Regions from separate parts of the Homo sapiens genome. Here all the other regions are linked to region 2. The links come from fine-mapping of genetic effects on gene expression. A gene starts in region 2. Each other region holds a variant in brackets. All regions are shown on one strand. Distances are from middle to middle. Region 1 overlaps C5 (complement C5). Region 2 holds the start of C5 (complement C5). Region 3 overlaps CNTRL (centriolin). Region 4 holds the start of CNTRL (centriolin).

What was found.
Region 1: its variant is fine-mapped to the expression of C5 in adrenal gland (GTEx, PIP above 0.99). The same link has a PIP of 0.9 or more in cerebellar hemisphere.
Region 3: its variant is fine-mapped to the expression of C5 in blood mononuclear cells (TOPMed, PIP 0.99).
Region 4: its variant is fine-mapped to the expression of C5 in whole blood (INTERVAL, PIP above 0.99).

The regions. Positions count from the first base shown.
Region 1 is chr9:120,983,857-120,988,856 of GRCh38, forward strand. All of the region lies in intron 25 of C5 (complement C5), which reads right to left. Among named protein-coding and RNA genes, the nearest start is that of C5-OT1, 34 kb to the left of the region's middle. The variant A/T (reference allele first, on the strand shown) is at 2,019.
Region 2 is chr9:121,047,982-121,052,981 of GRCh38, forward strand. It overlaps C5 (complement C5), which reads right to left and starts at 2,294. Exons shown (of 41, transcript NM_001735.3): 1 at 2,201-2,294. The coding sequence starts at 2,265. It overlaps LOC124902261 (a long non-coding RNA gene), which reads left to right and starts at 4,876. Exons shown (of 3, transcript XR_007061753.1): 1 at 4,876-5,000.
Region 3 is chr9:121,129,922-121,135,185 of GRCh38, forward strand. All of the region lies in intron 14 of CNTRL (centriolin), which reads left to right. Among named protein-coding and RNA genes, the nearest start is that of CNTRL, 58 kb to the left of the region's middle. The variant G/A (reference allele first, on the strand shown) is at 2,660.
Region 4 is chr9:121,070,096-121,075,345 of GRCh38, forward strand. It overlaps CNTRL (centriolin), which reads left to right and starts at 4,860. Exons shown (of 44, transcript NM_007018.6): 1 at 4,860-4,972. It also overlaps a transcript of C5 not described here. RefSeq lists enhancers at 2,032-2,081, 4,435-4,824 and silencers at 4,124-4,320, 4,945-5,004, 5,125-5,250. The variant G/T (reference allele first, on the strand shown) is at 1,927.

The sequences.
Region 1 (5,000 bases), 64 kb before region 2:
AGTCCCTGTCCCCCTCCACCTCCCAACAGAAGATGACCATTGTTTCTTGTGCTTTCTTCCAAATAGTAGATACAAGATATAGCCTTCCCATCTACCTTTCCATCCCAACCACACCAAAATGGTGGGAGAATGTTTACATTATCCTGTACTTGGCTTTTTTTCCATTTAGTAATATGCCTTAGAGATCTATATTAATACATAAAGTTTCCTTGTTCTTTTACAAGTGATTTTATACATTAAATTATAGTATTTTGGTACAGATGCACCAAAGCTATTTAAGCCATTTCCCTTTCTGTAGACATTTAGGTTGTTCTCAGTCTTTGCTCTAATTGATTTAATTATTTTAAAGATTTTTTTTTTGATATTAATCGGAACTTGCCCCTCCACAACTAGGTGCCTTTTCCTAATTCTTTCTCTAGAAACATCAGAAATTTATTTTCTACTCTATTGACTTTTAGGGGGTAAGAGTTGAGAGCTCCTCTCTTTTTAATCCTCCCACACTGCTCTCAAGGATGAGAAATACTTCTACGGATTGCTCAGGTTCAAGGACACTCACATTTTCAAAGATTGGCCCACATTTTACATTGGGTCTCTCTTGGGATTTTGGCTTTTGGAAGTCTCTCTTCTTTTAGCAGGCTAGAAAGGCATATGAGTGCAGTTATACGGCCAGGCTGCCTCTCCACTTATCTATACATCTGTATATATAAAGATGCTTTAGTTACATCTTTGAAAAAAGGCAATGGCAATAAATAGAAACAACGGACTCATCCTTTGGGATCAATTATAAAGATTAAATATATGAACATACTTAAAATAGTTCTGGATTATAGTAAGTATTCAATAGGTATAAGCTCTTACTTTTTTTTTTTTTTTTTTTTTTTTTCAGACGGACTCTCTCTCTGTTGCCCAGGCTGGAGTGCAATGGCGCAATCTTGGCTCACTACAGCTTCCACCTCCCAGGTTCAAGCGATTCTCCTGCCTCAGCCTCCTGAGTAGGTGGGACTACAGGCACGTGCCACCATGCCAAGCTAATTTTTGTATTTTTAGTAGAGACAGGGTTTCACCATGTTGGCCAGGCTGGTCTCAAACTCCTGACCTCAGGTGATCCACCCGCCTCAGCCTCCCAAAGTGCTGGGATTATAGGTGTGAGCCACTGCACCTGGTTTTTATAAGCTCTTACTCCTATCTCTCTTTCTCTTTGGTACTCTTGGGTGTCTCATCCCTGGTATCCTTAAGGAGTGAGAGTCTAGACAGCACTTCCCTAAAGGTAAAGCAAATACAATTCGCTCTAGCTTTTTGCGTTCTCCTCTTCCCACTGACCTGTCCCTTGGAGACTGCCCTGAAATTCAAATTTTAAGTGTGACATGGAGGAAAAAAAGAAGTAGGCTATTTGATTTGCTTTTGTTCCAGACCCTAGGCTACCTCTACAAGTGCTTAATATGGTCTAGTTTAGTTCCTCATGTTTTACAGTAGGGTCTGGGACTAAAAATTTAGAGTAGAAAAGAATTTTTTAGTCACCTTGAAGAGAAATCTGGCAAAATCTGATGAAACTGTAAATATGCATTCCTTATGTTCCAGCAATTCTATCTCCTGGGATATACCCTAGAGAAACTCTCACACATGTGCACAAAGAGACATATGAAGATGTTCATTATCATATTGTTTGTAATATTAAAATTTGGAAATGGTTGTCCATCAAGATAGGAATAGATAAAGAATATATACTATGTGATATATTTGTAAAATAAAATACTGCATGGCAATGAAAAGGAGTGAGCTATATTTACCTATACTACTAGATCTAAAGTAACTAAAAAGTATTAAAAGAAAAAGGTAAGTTACAGAATGATAGGTATAGTATGATACTAGTTATAATCATTTAGAAATACAAAAAGGGACTGTAAACCCATCACTTCATTTTGGAAGCAAATAACCATTCTTTCTTTTACAATGCTTAACTTTCTTAAACAGTGCTTACTTAAGAATTCCAGGAACTAGCCATGAGATAAAAATCAAGG[A/T]TGTGAAATGTCCCCTGGAGAAGAAAAATACTGAGCAGTTAATCTACAAACCTGTTTCAGTCTAGCTGACCACTAGATGGCCCGTTACTCAAGATAATAATCAGAACAAGACATGCTGACCTGTACGTAGCTAACTCTTGCACACAGTTTTCCAAGCCCCTTCCTCTTTAAAATCCCTCTGGCCAGCCTAGGGCATTTGGGATAGTTTCCTGACTCTAGTCTGCCATCTCCTTGGGTTGCTGGCTCCTGAATTAACCTGCTTTTCCTCCCACCAACCTTAGTCTCTTGAGTTTGGCATTTGAGCAGTGAGCAGCCAAACTGGAGTTAAGTTACAGCTATATGATTTCATGTATATATATACTATATAAAATATTAAAAATGTTCTGGAAAGATGCATAAACTCATGATAGTGAATGCCCTTGGGGGAAAGAAACAGAAATAAGATGGAGGCTTGTAGTTAAAGAGAAAAGTTCAATATCCACAATGTTCTTTAAAAAAAAAAAAAGACGAATATAAAAAATGTTCATCATCATCAATTTTGGGTTTTGCTAATATGAATGATATTCGTACTTTAAAAAATCTGCTTTGTATTTCTCAAGAAAAGTTTGAGGGTATTTAGGTGCTGGACATTTTCTTCTATGTCTATTATTTCTTTCAAGGAACTCATGGAGTTGGGTGTATGTTTCAGTCTTGCCCCAAACTCTTGAAAGGCTCTGAGTGTTTACTGAGAGGCTGTTGTACCTTCCTGTGGGGCTTTCTGCTCTCCAGGCATCTATTTCCCAGGTCCTGCTGTGTCAGTTTCCAGTCTTCATTGACACTCACTCCCACTCCTGCATCCTGGGTTATCCTCTGGTTGGTGTGCTGCAGGGGTCTATGAGCCTTTTATTTATTTTTTTATATTTTTATTGTTTTATTAAAGACAGGGTCTCCCTATGTTACCCAGTCTGGTCTGGAACTCCTCTGCTCAAGCCATCCTCCTGCTTCAGCCTCCCAAAGTGCTAGGATTATAGGTGTGAGCCACTGTATCTGGCCCTGTGTGTCTTTTGAAGTGTGTCACCCACACATGGTCAGACCTAATCCTAAGGTATAATCTATGGAACTTGGTAGCTGATCAGAGGTAAAGCCAAAAGGAAAGGAAGGAATCAAAAACCAACTGATGATTCTGACTTGATCCATGGGGGACAAAGGGCAGGGTATTGTTGTGCACTGAGTAAAGAAACAGAAGTGTATTTGAGGAAGAAAATAATGAATTTGGCACATATTGTGCTTGAAGGATCTTTGGCTTCCGGAAACCTAGAAATATGGATCTAGGACATTTCCTAACTTCTTAGGAAAGAAGTTAGGCCTTGAGACATTGATTAGGGGGCCATTGGCCTAGATGTTATGGAAATCATGGGCAATAATGAGACTGTACCAGGGGAGATTACAGAAAATAAGAGGGCCAAAGATAAAATTCTGGGAGATCTCAATAGCTAAAGAAAAAAAACTGGCCAGGCGCAGTGGCTCATGCCTGTAATCCCAGCCCTTTGGGAGGTTGAGGTGGGTGGATCACGAGGTCCGGAGATCGAGACCATCCTGGCCAACATGGTGAAACCCCACCTCTACTAAAAATACAAAAATTAGGCATGGTGGTGCGCGCCTGTAATCCCAGCTCTCAGGAGGCTGAGCCAGGAGAATCGCTTGAACCCGGGAGGCGGAGGTTGCAGTGAGCCGAGATCGTGCCACTGCACTCCAGCCTGGGAACAGAGCAAGACTCCGTCTCAAAAAAAAAAAAAAGAAAAAAGAAAAAAGAAAAAAATCTAAAATTAAAGTATTCTAGGTTGTAAACTCCTTAAATATGTTTCATATAGAACCTACAAAGCAGCTGGCACACCGTTTTTATTAAATATTTTGTCATAGCATGATGGTTTTTTTGTTTTGTTTTGTTTTGTTTTTTGAGACAGAGTCTCACTCTGTCACCCGGGCTGGAGTGCAGTAGCGCGATCTCGGCTCACTGTAACCCTTGCCTCCTGGGTTTAAGTGATTCTCCTGCCTCAGCCTCCTGAGTAGCTGGGACTACAGGCACATGCCACTACGCCCAGCTAATTTTTGTATTTTTCATAGAGACGGGGTTTCACCATGTTGGCCAGGATGGTCTCGATCTCTTGACCTCATGATCCGCCCGCCTTGTCCTCCCAAAGTGCTGGGATTACAGGCGTGAGCCACCATGCCCAGCCGGTATTTTTTGAAAATAGACTGCCATATGGACTCTTAATTAATTCAGACTATCTTTCCCTCAAATCATCAGAATTTTGGAAGATATGTTTCATTGAATAAATACTTACTGAGCATCTACTATGTGCCAGGTAGGTACCAGGCACTAGGGATACTTAGAACTTCCCGCATGGAGCTTATATTCCAGTGGGGGAGATACACAATAGTGGAATAAGCAAGAACGTTAGTAATCACACTGAGGAGAAAAGAAACGATATGAGGTGTTGGGAGGGGAGTGGATTGCAATTTTAGACATTATGATATAGCAGAGGCCTCCCCAAGGTGACATTTGGTAAAGACCTGAGGGAAATATGAGAGCCAGTCATGCTGACACCTAAGGAGGAGTATTCCAGACTGAGAAAACAGTGCAAAGGCCCTGAGGTGGAAGCATGCCTGGTGTGTTTGAGGAAGGCTAGTGGGGCTGAATTGGAGGGAAAGAGAGTATAGGAGATAAAGTAGGAGACATGAGGTGGAGCCAGATCATACAGAGCTTTGTAAATCACAATAAAAAGTTTGGTTTTTACTCTGGGTAAGATGGGAAGCTCCTAAATGGTTTTGAGTGGCATGATCTAACATATGTTTTAACAGGGTCACTTCAGTTGCTGTGTTGAGTATATACTGAAGAGGATCAAGGGCTGAACCCAGAAGACTAAGGGAGACTAGTGTAAGAATCCAGGTGGGAGAGGAAGGTGTCTTGGAACAGGATAGTGTGGTGGAGGTGGTGAGAAG
Region 2 (5,000 bases):
TAAGGTGAAGAAACTGCTAATTAATTTTCCCAAGGCCACACATATAGGATTTATGAATTCTATAATTCACAAATTATAGAATTAGAAATCGAACCTGAGCAGCCCGTTTCCAGAATTAACATTTTCAACTGTTGTACTAAATGGAATTTATAAAGAGTTTTGTAATTAGAAAAATTTAGGGATATAAAGCTACTTTAATTTCAGTATTTATAGAAGCTTTATGTTTTTAAGTTTAGTATTGCTTTAATTTTGAATTGTGTATGGTAGGGGTCCCCAACCCCTGGGCCATGGACAAATACCAGTCCATGGCTTGTTAGGAACCAGGCTACACAGCAGGAGGTGAGCAGTGGGGCAAAGGAGCATTACCACCTGAGCTCTGCCTCCTGTCAGATCAGTGGTGGCATTAGATTCTCCTAGGAGCATGAACTCTATTGTGAACCGCACATGCGAGGGATCTAGATTGCAAGCTCCTTATGAGAATATAATGCCTGATGATCTGAAGTGGAACAGTTTCATTCTGAAACCATCCCCACCCCAATCCTGGTCCATGGAAACATTGTCTTCCACAAAACCTGTCCCTAGTGCCAAAATGGTTGGGGACTGCTGGTCTATGTGATGGTAGCCGTCAAGCAAAAATACATAGTGTTTAGAAGCCCCTAAAAGAATATTCTGGAACCACCCTTTATAAAGATTTTGGTTCTTATTGACTTATCAGTAGCATAATCTATCCATATAAATAATTTCATAGTTTTCTTTGTCTTTCAATTGCTGCAGAGGAGCAGGAGCTTGCAGAGAGGCAAGAATGTTATTTTGGCCTCTATCTGGAATGCTCTTTCCTCAAATATTTGCATGGTTTGCTTCCTCACTTCCTTCAGGCTCTGTTTGAGTGCAGCCTCCTTAAGAGAACCTTTCCTGGCCACATTTTAAAATAGTGCCCCATAATTATTTTTTAATTCTCATACTCTGCTTTATTTTTTTCTTCATAATACTACCTACCTGACCTTACACATTCTTTCATTGGTTCATTCATTCATTACTTGCTTCTCCCACTAGAATGCAAGCTCTAGGAATTGTCTTACCGTTTGCTATATCTGCAGTGCCTATCATATGTTTAGATGCTCAATAAATATTTGTTGAATCAATCAATCAACCAATTAATTAAAGTGATTGATTGCCATGTTGTAAATGGTACACTCTGACTTCTTCAGAGAAAGTGAGGAAATAATTTTTATTAAGGGCTAGTAGAAAGAATTCAGAATAAGTCTGGACAAGAATCATGGAACCCAGGTCCTAGCCCTAGTTCTGCCACCAATTTGAAGTCACTTAATTTCAGTCTCTCTAAGCCTTAGCTGCTCGTCTTTCAAAAAGAATAAAGGCAGGATGCTAAGGTAGTTGAGTGCTTGTGGCCATGTAAAAAGATCACAGATCAGAAATACGAGGGTGCTAAAAAAGAATGACATCCTAAGTATGTGTTTATATATAATATATTTACATGTATACATTTATGACAAAATGAAAAAAATTGAAGTGATAAACAGGAGACCTTAATAAAAATCCTGTTTCTCTCTCTCTAGAACTGTGACCTTTGGTCAGTCACTTCCCTTATCTGGACTTATTCTCATATATAAAATGAATAGGTTTGATTAGATGATCTGCAGTTACTTTTCAGTATTAAAATATTTCTAGATATAAGATCATTATTTTTAAAACATTACTTAAAATGCATATTATCTCAATAATGACACTAAAAATTGTGAAAAGTCAGCTCATAAATGTATGGTAGAAGTCACTACAACAACAGATTTTCAGATCACAGTATTAGATTGACTCCTAAATAACCCTGGTTTAACTGTGTATAGTCTATGAAAAACACAAAGAAAACTAAACACCAAGTTAAAATAAGCAAAAAATGTCAAGAAAGTTTATTATCTGGAGTTTCTTTTGTGCTTTTTTGAAGAGGAATTTGAATAATCACTTAACGTAAATTTTAATAAATAACAATTCCATAAAAGCTGTCATGTTGTTAGCTACTCATCAAATCAAAATGCTTCCATGACTTTCTCATTCAGAGATGATACTATTCACTTGCTGTTCTCAGAAGTAGCAAGTTATTTTCAAGTTAACAGAATCTGTTAAATTTAACTCTTCATTCGTCATAACTAAGATGCATTGAAAAATGAAGATAGCTTGTTTTACTTACGTTTGCTCCTGTCCCCAGGTTTTCCCCAGGAAGATTAAAAAACAAAGTATTCCCAAAAGGCCCATGGTTGGAGGTAGCAGGAAACCACGGATATAACACTTTTGAGGATAGTCTCCTTTTAAATAAACTGAACTTGAAGAATTCAGATAATCTGGTTAATTATTAATGTCAGAAAGGTGAACCTCTAAGTGGGAAAACTAGAATTGGAACTAAAACACCCTTTCATGCCCAGGAATACAGATAGGGAGTACTTTACAGGAACTTACACCCAGGGAATTTATTTTTATTAATACAAATAAAGGGACCCTAAAATGGGAATTTGGCACTATGAAGAGTGGCTCAAAGCTAGAAACCAGTAAGCCCATTGCTTTGGCCTTTCTTCTCTTGCCCAGGGCATTTGCTTTGATGTTGCATCATCTGCAAGCATACATCTGGCAGGTCCACTCTAATACTGATGAAGACCCACCTGGACTCAGTTTCACACTGAAATGATTTTAGAAGGGGCCTGGTTTAGACAGGGCTCACAAGATGATCTTTTTTTGGTGACCTGAATGGCAGTGTCCTTGGTGCTGCAAATGGTCTGAGCATAACCTAGCTCTGCAAAGGAGGTCTAGGGAATTGTTCCTTGGTCTGTCTCAGTCTAGAGAACACTAGGTGGAGGAAAGTTGTGACTGGCAATGAAAACGCCATGTGGAGGATGCTGTCGTCATTCTCTAAGTATTGGAGAATAGATATTCTCCAATATTTATTAAGGCATATACCACTCGTTCAAAGTTTGTCTTTATTCAGATATAGAATATCTTTCTTTTAAAGAAAACACATGTTATACTTTTCAGTGAGGATTTTAATAATTTTAATATAAGAGCTCCAGAAAAACAAAGCTTCCTATAACAATTGAGTCTAGTAATTAATTCACAATATACTAAAATTTTATCTTTATACTTTTTTTTTTTTTTTTGGAGACAGAGTCTCTTTCTGTCGCCCAGGCTGGAGTCTAGTGGCACTATCTTGGCTCAGGGCAACCTCTGCCTCCCAGGTTCAAGGCATTCTCCTGCCTCAGCCTCCCAAGTAGCTGGGACTACAGGCATGTCCCATCACATCCAGCTAATTTTTTGTATTTTTAGTAGAGGTAGGGTTTCACCGTGTTGGCCAGGCTGGTCTCGAACTCCTGACCTCAGGTGATCCACCCACCTTGGCCTCCCAAAGTACTGGGATTACAGGCATGAGCCACTGTGCCTGGCTGATTTTTAATTAAGTTAATTTTTATGATGTTTTATGTTCATTAGAATTTTTTTATTTACTACCTTCTCTTTTTTAGTACTATTTTTACCTTAATATATAATATGTACTCTTCTTTAAAATAATAAAACAGATGTCTCTAAACATATTTCTATAATGAGATATTTATGATATATAAATGAGATATTTATGGTCACATTGGCATTCTTTGCTTTGAATTAATAAATAATAAACCAAAAATATTTATAAACACTTTAATGCTGAATTCACTAGGGAAAAAAGGAGCACAAAGGGAAATTTGATATACAAATTTCACTAAAGGTATCTCTTGCATATGTCATTGAAATGACAAACATTTGCCACTATTGTCTGATCATCTAGCCCATTTATTTCAAAAGGGAATCTGTGAAATGATTAAGCTGGGTTGCAAAAGATGGGTCAAGTTAAAACAAACAGTACTTTTGCCATCATTTTTGGGAAATGAAATTTAAGAGAGAACAACAACACTCAAATCAAGGTAGGTAATATTTGTATTTTAAGTGCAAATAAGTTTGTTTGCTTGAGCTATAGAGTAAATACTGATAACCAATATTTGCAAGCCATTGTCCTGTTTCTCTGGTAGAAAACATTTAGAGAATGATGGATCTCAAAGATTCTCAACAGAACTGAAGTTTAACAATTTATAGATTCTAAGCTGTGTTTAGTCAAAATTTTTTATCTACCTTCTAAATGTGGCTCACAGATGAACTTTTGAGGCTGGGCACGCTGGCTCACACCTGTAATCCCAGATCTTTGGGAGGCCGAGGTGGGTGGATCACCTGAGGTCAAGAGTTCAAGACCAGCCTGGCCAACATGGCGAAAACCCGCCTCTACTAAAAATACAAAAATTAGCCAGGCGTGGTGGCGGGTGCCTGTAATCCCAGCTACTTGGGAGGCTGAGGCAGGAGATTCACTTGAACCTGGGAGGTGGAGGTTGAGCACAGATCACGCCACCGCACTCCAGCCTGAGCAACAGAGCCAGACTCCATCTCAGAAAAAAAAAAAAAAAAAAAAGATGATTTTTTTTCTTTATAATTTAAAATGTGACCTTTGGTAAGCCTTTCATTTTTATACAAATACTGCATTTCTAAAAGAGAAGAAACTCAGATCTGGCAGAAAGTTTGGTGGTCACCTGACCTTCCTGCTAATGCTGCCTCAATTGTCCCCTCATGATTGAGCCCAAATGACCTAGCCTAGTGCACCAGGCCCCTCTTGAGCCCTGCTTAGTTCTCCAGCCTCAACATTCCATTCTTCACTCCGGCCAAGGAGCTGAATTACCTGATTATTCCCTGAAGTCACCTTGACACCAAGGTGCTCCTAGCAGGATAATAATTTTGTATCTTTCAAATGGATATTCTTTAGTTATTTTGTACTTACTTGGTAAAATATGTCTGGACACCAATTTTCTATTAATACAAACTACAGAACTCTTTTTTATGTATAATAAAAAGATTTTATCATGTATAATTTTCAAAATCAGACAGCTTACAGGGAGGTATATTAATGGGTTGTAAATTTAGAG
Region 3 (5,264 bases), 82 kb after region 2:
GTGATGGATTATGTTTATTGATTTGTGTATGTTGAACCAGCCTTGCATCCCAGGGATGAAGCCGACTTGATCGTGGTGGATAAGCTTTTTGATGTGCTGCTGGATTCGGTTTGCCAGTATTTTATTGAGGATTTTCACATCGATATTCATCAGGGATATTGGTCTAAAATTCTCTTTTTTTGTTGTGTCTCTGCCAGGCTTTGGTATCAGGATGATGCTGGCCTCATAAAATGAGTTAGGATTCCCTCTTTTTCTATTCATTGGAAGAGTTTCAGAAGGAATGGTACCAGCTCCTCTTTGTACCTCTGGTAGAATTCAGCTGTGAATCCATCTGGTCCTGGAGTTTTTTTGGTTGGTAGGCTATTAATTATTGCCTCAATTTCAGATCCTGTTATTGGTCTATTCAGAGATTCAACTTCTTCCTGGTTTAGTCTTGGGAGGGTGTATGTGTCCAGGAATTTATCCATTTCTTCTAGATTTTCTAGTTTATTTGCATAAAGGTGTTTATAGTATTCTCTGATGGTAGTTTGTATCTCTGTGGGATTGGTGGTGATACCCTCTTTATCATTTTTTATTGCATCTATTTGATTCTACCCTCTTTTCTTCTTTGTTAGTCTTGCTAGCGGTCTATCTATTTTGTTGATCTTTTCAAAAAACCAGCTCCTGGATTCACTGATTCTTTTGAAGGGTTTTTTGTGTCTCTATCCCCTTTAGTTTGGCTCTGATCTTAGTTGTTTCTTGCCTTCTGCTAGCTTTTGAATGTGTTTGCTCTTGCTTCTCTAGTTCTTTTAGTTGTGTTGTTAGGGTATTGATTTTAGATCTTTCCTGCTTTCTCTTGTGGGCATTTAGTGCTATACATTTCCCTTTACACACTGCTTTAAATGTGTCCTAGAGATTCTGGTATGTTGTGTCTTTGTTCTCATTGGTTTCAAAGAACATCTTTATTTCTGCCTTCATTTCATTGTGTATCCAGTAGTCATTAGGAGCAGGTCGTTTAGTTTCCATGTGGTTGAGTGGTTTTGAGTGAGTTTCTTAATCCTGAGTTCTAATTTGATTGCACTGTGGTCTGAGAGACAGTTTGTTGTGATTTCTGTTCTTTTACATTTTTTGAGGAGTGCTTTACTTCCAACTATGTGGTCAATTTTGGAATAAGTGAGATGTGGTGCTGAGAAGAATGTATATTCTGTTGATTTGGGGTGGAGAATTCTGTAGATATCTATTAGGTCTGCTTGGTGCAGAGCTGAGTTCAATTCCTGGATATCCTTGTTAACCTTCTGTCTTGTTGATCTGTCTAATATTGACAGTGGGGTGTTAAAGTCTCCCATTATTATTGTGTAGGAGTCTAAGTCTCTTTGTAGGTCTCTAAGGACTTGCTTTATGAATCTGGGTTCTCCTGTATTGGGTGCATATATGTTTAGGATAGTCAGCCCTTCTTGTTGAATTGATCCCTTCACCATTATGTAATACCCTTCTTTGTCGCTTTTGATCTTTGTTGGTTTAAAGTCTGTTTTATCAGAGACTAGGATTGCAGGCCCTGCTTTTTTTTGCTTTCCATTTGCTTGGTAGATCTTCCTCCATTCCTTTATTTTGAACCTATGTGTGTCTCTGCACATGAGATGGGTCTCCTGAATATAGCACACTGATGGGTCTTGACTCTTTATCCAATTTGCCAGTCTGTGTCTTTTAATTGGGGGCATTTAGCCCATTTACATTTAAGGTTAATATTGTTATGTGTGGATTTGATCCTGTTGTTATGATGCTAGCTGGTTATTTTGTCCGTTAGTTGATGCAGTTTCTTCCTGGCATTGATGGTCTTTACAATTTGGCATGTTTTTGCAGTGGCTGGTACGGGTTGTTCCTTTCCATGTTTAGTGCTTCCTTCAGGAGCTCTTGTAAGGCAGGCCTGGTGGTGACAAAATCTCTCAGCATTTGCTTGTCTGTAAAGGATTTTATTTCTCCTTCACTCATGAAGCTTAGTTTGGTTGAATATGAGATTCTGGGTTGAAAATTATTTTCTTTTAAGAATGTTGAATATTGGCCTCTACTCTCTTCTGGCTTGTAGAGTTTCTGAGAGATCTGCTGTTAGTCTGATGGGCTTCCCTTTGTGGGTAACCCAGCCTTTCTCTCTGGCTGCCCTTACATTTTTTCCTTCATGTCAACCTTAGGGAATCTGACAATTATGTGTCTTGGAGTTGCTCTTCTCGAGGAGTATCTTTGTGGTGTTCTCTGTATTTCCTGAATTTGAATGTTGGCCTGCCTTGCTAGGTTAGGGAAGTTCTCCTGGATAATATCCTGAAGAGTGTTTTCCAACTTAGTTCCATTCTCCCTGTCACTTTTCAGGTACACCATTCAAACGTAGATTTGGTCTTTTCACATAGTCCCATATTTCTTGGAGGCTTTGTTCATTTCTTTTTACTCTTTTTTCTCTAAACTTCTCTTCTTGCTTTATTTCGTTAATTTGATCTTCAGTCACTGATACCCTTTCTTCCACTTGATCAAATTGGCTACTGAAGCTTGTGCATGTGTTACGTAGTTCTCATGCCATGGTTTTCAGCTCCATCAGGTCATTTAAGGTCTTCTCTACACTCTTTATTCTAATTAGCCATTCGTCTAATCTTTTTTCAAGGTTTTTAGCTTCCTTTCAATGGGTTCAAACATC[G/A]TCCTTTAGCTTGAAGAAGTTTGTTATTACTGACCTTCTGAAGCCTACTTCTGTCAGCTCATCAGAGTCATTCTCCATCCAGCTTTGTTCTGTTGCTGGTGAGAAGCTGCCATCCTTTGGAGGAGAAGAGGCGCTCGGTTTTTAGAATTTTCAGCTTTTCTGCTGTGGTTTCTCCCCATCTTTGTGGTTTTATCTACCTTTGGCCTTTGGTCTTTGGTCTACCTCCAGATGGGGTTTTGGTGTGGATGTCCTTTTTGTTGATGTTAAGGCTATTCCTTTCTGTTTGTTAGTTTTCCTTCTAACAGTCAGGTCCCTCAGCTGCTGGTCTGTTGGAGTTTGCTAGAGGTCCACTCCAGACCCTGTTTGCCTCGGTATCACAAGTAGAGGCTGCAGAACAGCAAATATTGCTGCCTAATCCTTCCTCTGGAAGCTTCTTCCCAGAGGGGCACCCGCCTGTATGATGTGTCAGTTGGCCCCTACTGGGAGGTGTCTCCCAGTTAGGCTACACGGGGGTCAGGGACCCACTTGAGGAGGCAGTCTGTCCGTTCTCTGAGCTCAAACACTGTGCTGGGAGAACCACTGCTCTCTTCAGAGCTGTCCTACAGGGACGTTTGAGTCTGCAGAAGTTTCTGCTGCCTTTTGTTCAGCTATGCCCTGCTCCTAAAGGTGGAGTCTACATGTAGAGGCAGAGGTCTTGCTGAGCTGCGGTGGGCTCCGCCCAGTTCGAGCTTCCTGGCTGCTGTGTTTACCTACTCAAGCCTCAGCAATGGTGAACGCCCCTCCCCCTGCCAGGCTGCTGCCTCCAAGGTCTATCTCAGACTGCTACACTAGCAGTGAGCAAGGCTCTGTGAGCATGGGACCTGCTGAGCCAGGTGTGGGATATGATCTCCTGGTGTGCTGTTTGCTAAGACCATTGGAAAAGCACAGTATTTGGGTGAGAGTGTCCTGTTTTTCCAGGTACTGTCTTCTGTGAATGTACGGCTTCCCTTGGCTAGGAAAGGGAAATCCCCCGACGCCTTGCATTTCCTGGGTGAGGCGATGCCCTGCCCTGCTTCGGGTCGCCCTCCATGGGCTGCACCCACTGTCCAATCAGTGCCAATGAGATAAACCAGGTACCTCAGTTGGAAATGCAGAAATCACCCGTCGTCTGCGTCGATCACGCTGGGAGCTGCAGACCAAGCTGTTCCTATTTGGCCATCTCGGAACGGGATTCAATTTTATATATATTTTTATACAGATTTTTTTTCCTGAACCATTTGGAAATCAGTTGTAGACATCATGCTCCTTTGCTTCTAAATATTTCAGTATGTATTTCCTATGAACAAGGACATTTTCTAACATAAACACAGAATAATTATCAAATTTAGGAAATTCAGTATTTTATCAGACTTCATGTTTGCCAGTCTGCTGAGCTTTAAAGGACTTCTTTCCATCTTTCTATTGTGAAGATGTTTACAGTTACAAGAAAGTTGAACAAATAGTTTGGTGAACATCTGTGAACCTCTTGGATTCAATAAATATTTTGATTTATTTATTTTCTCTTTCTCATAGACACATACTTTTTTCCTTTGCTCATTAGAAAGTTGTAGATATCATAACATCATCCCTTCAACACACATTTTTTTAAGAGCATTTTCCTGCATCACTACGATATCATTATTACACCTAAGAAAAATGACGGTAATTCCCTAATGTCCTCTAATATCATTATTATTTTTTTTTTTTTTTGAGATGGAGTCTTGCTCTGTCACCAGGCTGGGAATGCAGTGGCATGATCTTCGCTCACTGCAACCTCCGCCTCCCAGGTTCAAGTGATTCCGCTGCCTCAGCCTCCTAAGTAGCTGGGACTACAGGCGTGTGCCACCACGCCTGGCTAATTTTTTTGTGTGTGTGTTTTGGTAGAGATAGGTTTCACCATGTTGGCCAGGATGGTCTCAATCTCCTGACTTCGTGATCCACCCGCCTTGGCCTCCCAAAGTGCTGGGATTACAGGCATGAGCCACTGTACCCGGCCCTAAGGTCCTCTAATATCTGAACCATATTCAGATTTTCTTGATTGTCCCAAGAATGTGTGTGTGTGTGCACATGCGTGTGTGAAATCCAGGCTGGTATTCTGTAGATTGAACCACGTTCTGGGTTTGACTGATTGTTTCCTCATGGTGTGTTTAACTTGTATCTCTATGTTCTATGTAAAATAGTATCTTAAGTTAACTGCATTTTCCCCTGGTTACTGGAGAGGCTGATCACCTTTCATTTGCTGTTCAAGTTTCCTCTTGAGTGAATTCCCTATTCTATTTTTTGTTGAACTGTCTCTGCCTTTTCTTAAAGATTTGTAGGAATTCTTTACATATTCTGGATAATAATCTTTGGTTGGTTATATGTAGTATCTATATTTTAAACAAGCAGCCCAAATGATTGAATTGCCAAGTGGTTTTTGGACAATTCTTTTGTAGAAGTTCTCATCGTAGAATCCTCCTCTTTAATCTGTAATAGTTTGATCCCAAGTAAATAGATGAAAGAGATAAGGTTTAATCACAAAACACAAATGGACTAAAATGAATCAGAACCATGGTATGCTAATAAATATGTACTTATATTCTTGTTA
Region 4 (5,250 bases), 22 kb after region 2:
GCCTGTAATCCCAGCACTTTGAGAGGCCGAGGCAGGTGGATCACCTGAGGTCAGGAGTTCGAGACTAGCCTGACCAACATGGAGAAACCCCATCTCTACTAAAAATACAAAATTAGCTGGGTATGTTGGCAGGCGCCTCTAATCCCAGCTACTCGGGAGGCTGAGGCAGGAGAATCGCTTGAACCTAGGAGGCAGAGGTTGCGGTGAGCTGAGATCATGCCATTGCACTGCAGCCTGGGCAACAAGAACAAAATTCTGAAAGAAAGAAAGAAGGAAGGAAGGAAGGGTGATATATATATATATATATATATATATATATATATATATATATGTATGTATATTCTGTATGTGTATATATATATGTATATTCTGTATGTGTATATATATGTGTGTGTGTGCGTATTCATATATATATACATACATACTTACAATGGAATACTATTCAGCCATAAAAAAGAATGAAATACTGTAATTCACAGCAACACGGATGGAAATGGAAGACAGTATATTACGTGAATAAGCCAGGAACAGTAAGTTAAATGCCACATGTTCTCAGTCATATGTCGAAGCTGAAAAATGTTGATCTCATAGGAGTAAACAGTAGAACAGAGGATACTAAAGGTTGGGAAGGGTAGCAGGGGGAAGGGAAGGAGAGAAAGATATCTTAAAGGATACAAAATTATAGCTAGATAGGAGCAATAAGTTCTAGTGTTCTATACTTACTATAGGATGAGGATAGTTAACAATAATATATTATATAGTTTCAAATAGCTAGAAGGAGGGTATGAAATCTTCCTAAAATAAACATATGATGTTTGGGATGATGGATATGCTAATTACTCCAACCACTATACATTTATATGTATTAAAACATCACTATGTATCCCATAAATATGTACAGTTACTACATGTCATTTAAAAATAAAAATTAAGGTTGGGTATGGTGACTCACACCTACAAACCTAGCACTTTGGGGGACCAAGGCAAGCGGATACTTGAGGCCAGGAGTTGAAGACCAGCCTGATCAACATGGTGAAGCACTGTCTGTACTAAAAATACACACACATACACAAAAATAGCTGGGCGTGGAGTCACACACCTGTAATCACAGCTACTGGGGAGGCTAAGGCACAAAAATTGTTTGAACCCTGGAGGTGGAGGTTGCAGTGAGCCATGATCGTGCTACTGCACTCCAGCCTGGGCAACAGAGTGAGACTCTGTCTCAAAAAAACAAAAACAAGAACAAAAAACAAAACACACCAACAAAAACAAAAAAAAATAAATGAATAAAAATTAAAAAAAAATCAGGCTGGGCATGCTGGCTCATGCGTGTAATCCCAGCACTTTGGGAGGTTGAGGTGGGAGGATCGCTTGAGCCCAGGAGTTTAAGACCAGCCTGGGCAACACAGCAAGACCCCATCTTTACAAAAAGTTTAAAAATTAGCTAGGTGTGGTGGTGCACACCTATAGACTGAGCTATTTGGGAGGCTGAGGGAGGAGGATCACTTGAGTCTGAGAAGTCAAGGCTGCAGTGAGTTATGATTGTGTCACTGCACTGAAACCTGGGTGACAGAGTGAGACCTTGTCTTAAAAAACAAAACAACAAAATCACACTGGCCAGTCACAGAAAGAAATGGCAATAATGAAAGTTGCCATCCCTGTCTGACAAACTAGTCTGTTTCTTCTCTAAAACAAATTCGCAAAATGATTAAACTGGGTTGCAAAAAGCTGAGGGAAGTTTAAACAGAATAGCTTTGCTATCATTTGGAAAAAAGACTGAGTAAAAGCTTGGTCACCCTGACGTGGCTAATATTTGTATTGTAAATGCAACTCAGAGTACATTCTTCATAATATCAGATAAAGAAAAATAGTGTGGAACGCGAGTTGTCTGCGTTACTTTCGTATTCTCACTTCTGCTTTGGAGAA[G/T]GAAGTTCTTTTAGCATGCTAAGAGAGACAGTTAATATTCAAATTAACTGGAGAAAGGTCTCTCCTTTGAAGTCTCTAGCTTCGTTAGAGATGATGCTAGACACCAGCAGAGGTCTGTATGAGGAGGAAAAGGGGGCAACATGGGACCGGTGAGTGCCCATCCGCGGCTAACTGGATACGGACTGAGAGATCACCCAAGAGAAAAGTGTTTTGCGCCACCCTCTGGACTTTTTATGTATATTTGATGGCTATTAATTGATACTAATATGATTGATAATGAACTACATCAGCACACCACGGCTTGATAATGGATCCCACGTGAATACCATTACAGACTTTGAGGGACACAGCAATGAGGTTACGCAATAAATCTAAGTTTCTGGGTACAAGAAACCGAAACGATGGGTGTCAAAACATATGCAAATAGAACTGAAACTCAGCAACGTACACATTCCAATCTAATAAATATCACCTGAACTTCGATTAAAAATGAATGTAATCTCGGCAGGGCGCGGTGGCTCACGCCTGTAATCCCAGCACTTTGGGAGGCCGAGGCGGGCGGATCACGTGAGGTCAGGAGATTGAGACCAGCCTGACCAACATGGTGAAACTCTGTTTCTACTAAAATACAAAAATTAGCTGGCCTTGGTGGTGCGTGCCTGTAATCCCAACTCCTCGGGAGGCTGAGGCAGGAGAATCGCTTGAACCCGGGAGGCGGAGGTTGCACTGAGCCGAGATCCTGCCACTGCACTCCAGCCTGGGTGACAGAGCCAGACTCTGTTCAAAAAATTAAAAAAAAAAAAAAAAAAAAGAAAAGAAAAAAAATGAATGTAATCTCCTCTTAAGTGGAGCTTTTCAAAAATTCTGCGTTTAAACTCCAAGGGCTTCGTTCTGTGTCGTGTAAATAGTTGGGGAGAGGACAGCACCATTCACTTAAATGTCAATGGGAATCACATTTAAGTAAAAGGAAAAGGAAATCAGTAAATCAAAGTAAATCAAAGACACATCTGCATCCCCATGTTTATTGCAGCTTATTCCCTGTTGGACGTCCCCTGAATTTCCTATAGAGGTGAAGCCATCTCTGCCTTAAGGAAAAATGAAGTGCCTAATACTGCTTATAATATGGTCCCTTTTCCAGATTTAGCTTCTCCACCCCAGATTTTTGCACAAGCCATACTGAACTACTTCATGTTTCCATACTCATGTTTTGTTCCAGCCACACTGAATTACTTAACATTCAGCACATTGCCAAGCTCTTTTCCCCCGCTTCCGGGGTTTGCACAAGTTGTTCCCTTTGCCAAGCAAATTCTTCCCCACCTCCCTACTCCTTGCCTAAACTCTTCTTTTGGGCGTAGAAAGAAGTATTGCTTCTGGGTAACCTTTGTCTAATAATGAAATATCTAAGACATATTGAGAACTTACTATGGGTCCCTCACTGTTCTAAGTTCTTTCACAGAGATTCACTTTTATAATTATCAGGAAAACTGGACTTTTTTTTTTTTTTTTTTTTTTTGAGATGGAGTCTCGCTCTGTCGTCCAGGCTGGAGTGCAGTGGCGCGATCTCGGCTCACTGCAACCTCCGCCTCCCGGGTTCAAGCGATCCTCCTGCAGCCTCTCAAGCAGCTGGGATGACAAGCGTGCGCCACCACGCCCGGGTAATTTTTGTATTTTTAGTAGAGACGGCGTTTCACCTTGTTGGCCAGGCTGATCTTGAATTCCTGACCTCAAGTGATCCTCCCACCTTGGTCTCCCAAAGTGCTGGGATTACAGGCATGAGCCACAGCGCCCGGCCAGGATTCACTTTTATAATTATCAGGAAAACTGTAGGAAGTGTTAATAGGTAAAAGGACCTCATTTCATAGATAAGGAAACTGAGACACAGAGAGAGAGGGAGTTTCTAAAAGTGTTATACAGGTGGCCTATAAACTCTGTAGTGAAGAAAGGAAATGAAGACAGGATAGAATGATCGCGAGAAAATGGTAAGAACAAGGGACTGGAAGACGCAAGGAAGTTTAGAAATACGCTGGCATAGGGGTCTTTTGAGCAGGCACGCTGCTAAGATGATAGGATTATAGTCAAGGATGGGGAGCGATTGCACTGGGGATTTCTGGAGCGGGTGCAGCCTCTGATGGTAACATGGTCCAGGGTATACCTTCAAAACGGGAGGCTACTGGAGTGAAAGGCGTCAATGGTGATAACACTTTAAAAAAAACTTCAGTGTTTCCCTAGCATCCAGCCCAGTATCTGCTAAATTCTTTAAAATATCTGTTGAATGCATGTCGTGAACGCCGTGCTCATGGGCAAGCCCCAGATGAAGCCTGTGCAAGTGCTTCTTGCTTTAACTCCCTTGTAGCAATCAGAGGAACATCCTCTGCCTAGGATTCCCAAGCTCCCTGAACCTCACGCGACAGCTGGAGCCCAGGCTGCGTCCGCTTTGAGGTTCATCCGAGCCTGGGCAGTTCGGTCCCTGGAGGGAATTCGCTTTAGATACGACTGTCAGAGAGAAGTGTGCTGATAAGAACACTCGCTCATAGCGCGCAAGCATCAGAAGTGGGGGAGGCCGGGGAGGCGCTGCGCCGGTGCCTCAGGCCGTCCTCGGACACAGGCCCTGAGAAGCGTGTCCGTGTTTCAGAGGGTGGCGGCGGCAGCTTTGTCTCAGCGAAGGCCACAGCACTGCGGGCAGCTGCCGCATGAAACCTCGGCTCCCCCTGACTCTGCACCCGACACTTCACCTGCAACGCAATCCGAAGGCGAAGGCACCGCATCCCGTCGGCCCCGCGCGGCCGGAAGCCTCGCGCCCAAGACTCCCCGGCATCCTAGCGCGCTGGCTGCAAAAGAGGCGGGAAACGCCTCCGCGTCCCTTCCAACAGTACCGGAGAGGGAGAGGGGCGTGGCTGAGACTAGCCCCGACCACGCGCGCGCGGCCCCTCGGCAACCGGCACAACACAACAAAATGGCTGCCGCGCCGCTGGGCCCCTGAGGAAAGAGCCCGAACTTCTCCCGCTCTACCTCAGCCTGCGGGACTGCTCGGCTCGGCTTCTAGGCGGTGAGCGTCAGACCTGGCCGAGCCCGTTCCCCGGCATCCGGCCCGAGCAGTGGGGGCCGGCGGCAAAGGCGGGAAGGCCCGGACCGGGCGTGGTGTGGGCCGGCTTGGGATGGATTCGGGGCGGGGGCGCGTGTCTGGGAATTGGGATTGGACGGGAAAGAGGGGAGGGCCCGGAACGGGCGTGGGGCGGTGGATGAAGGAGGGAGGTTTGGATGGGAAGAGGTGGGGACGGCGGGGGCGATTGGGGATGAAGAACCAGAGTGTGGGGAGGTGTGGAA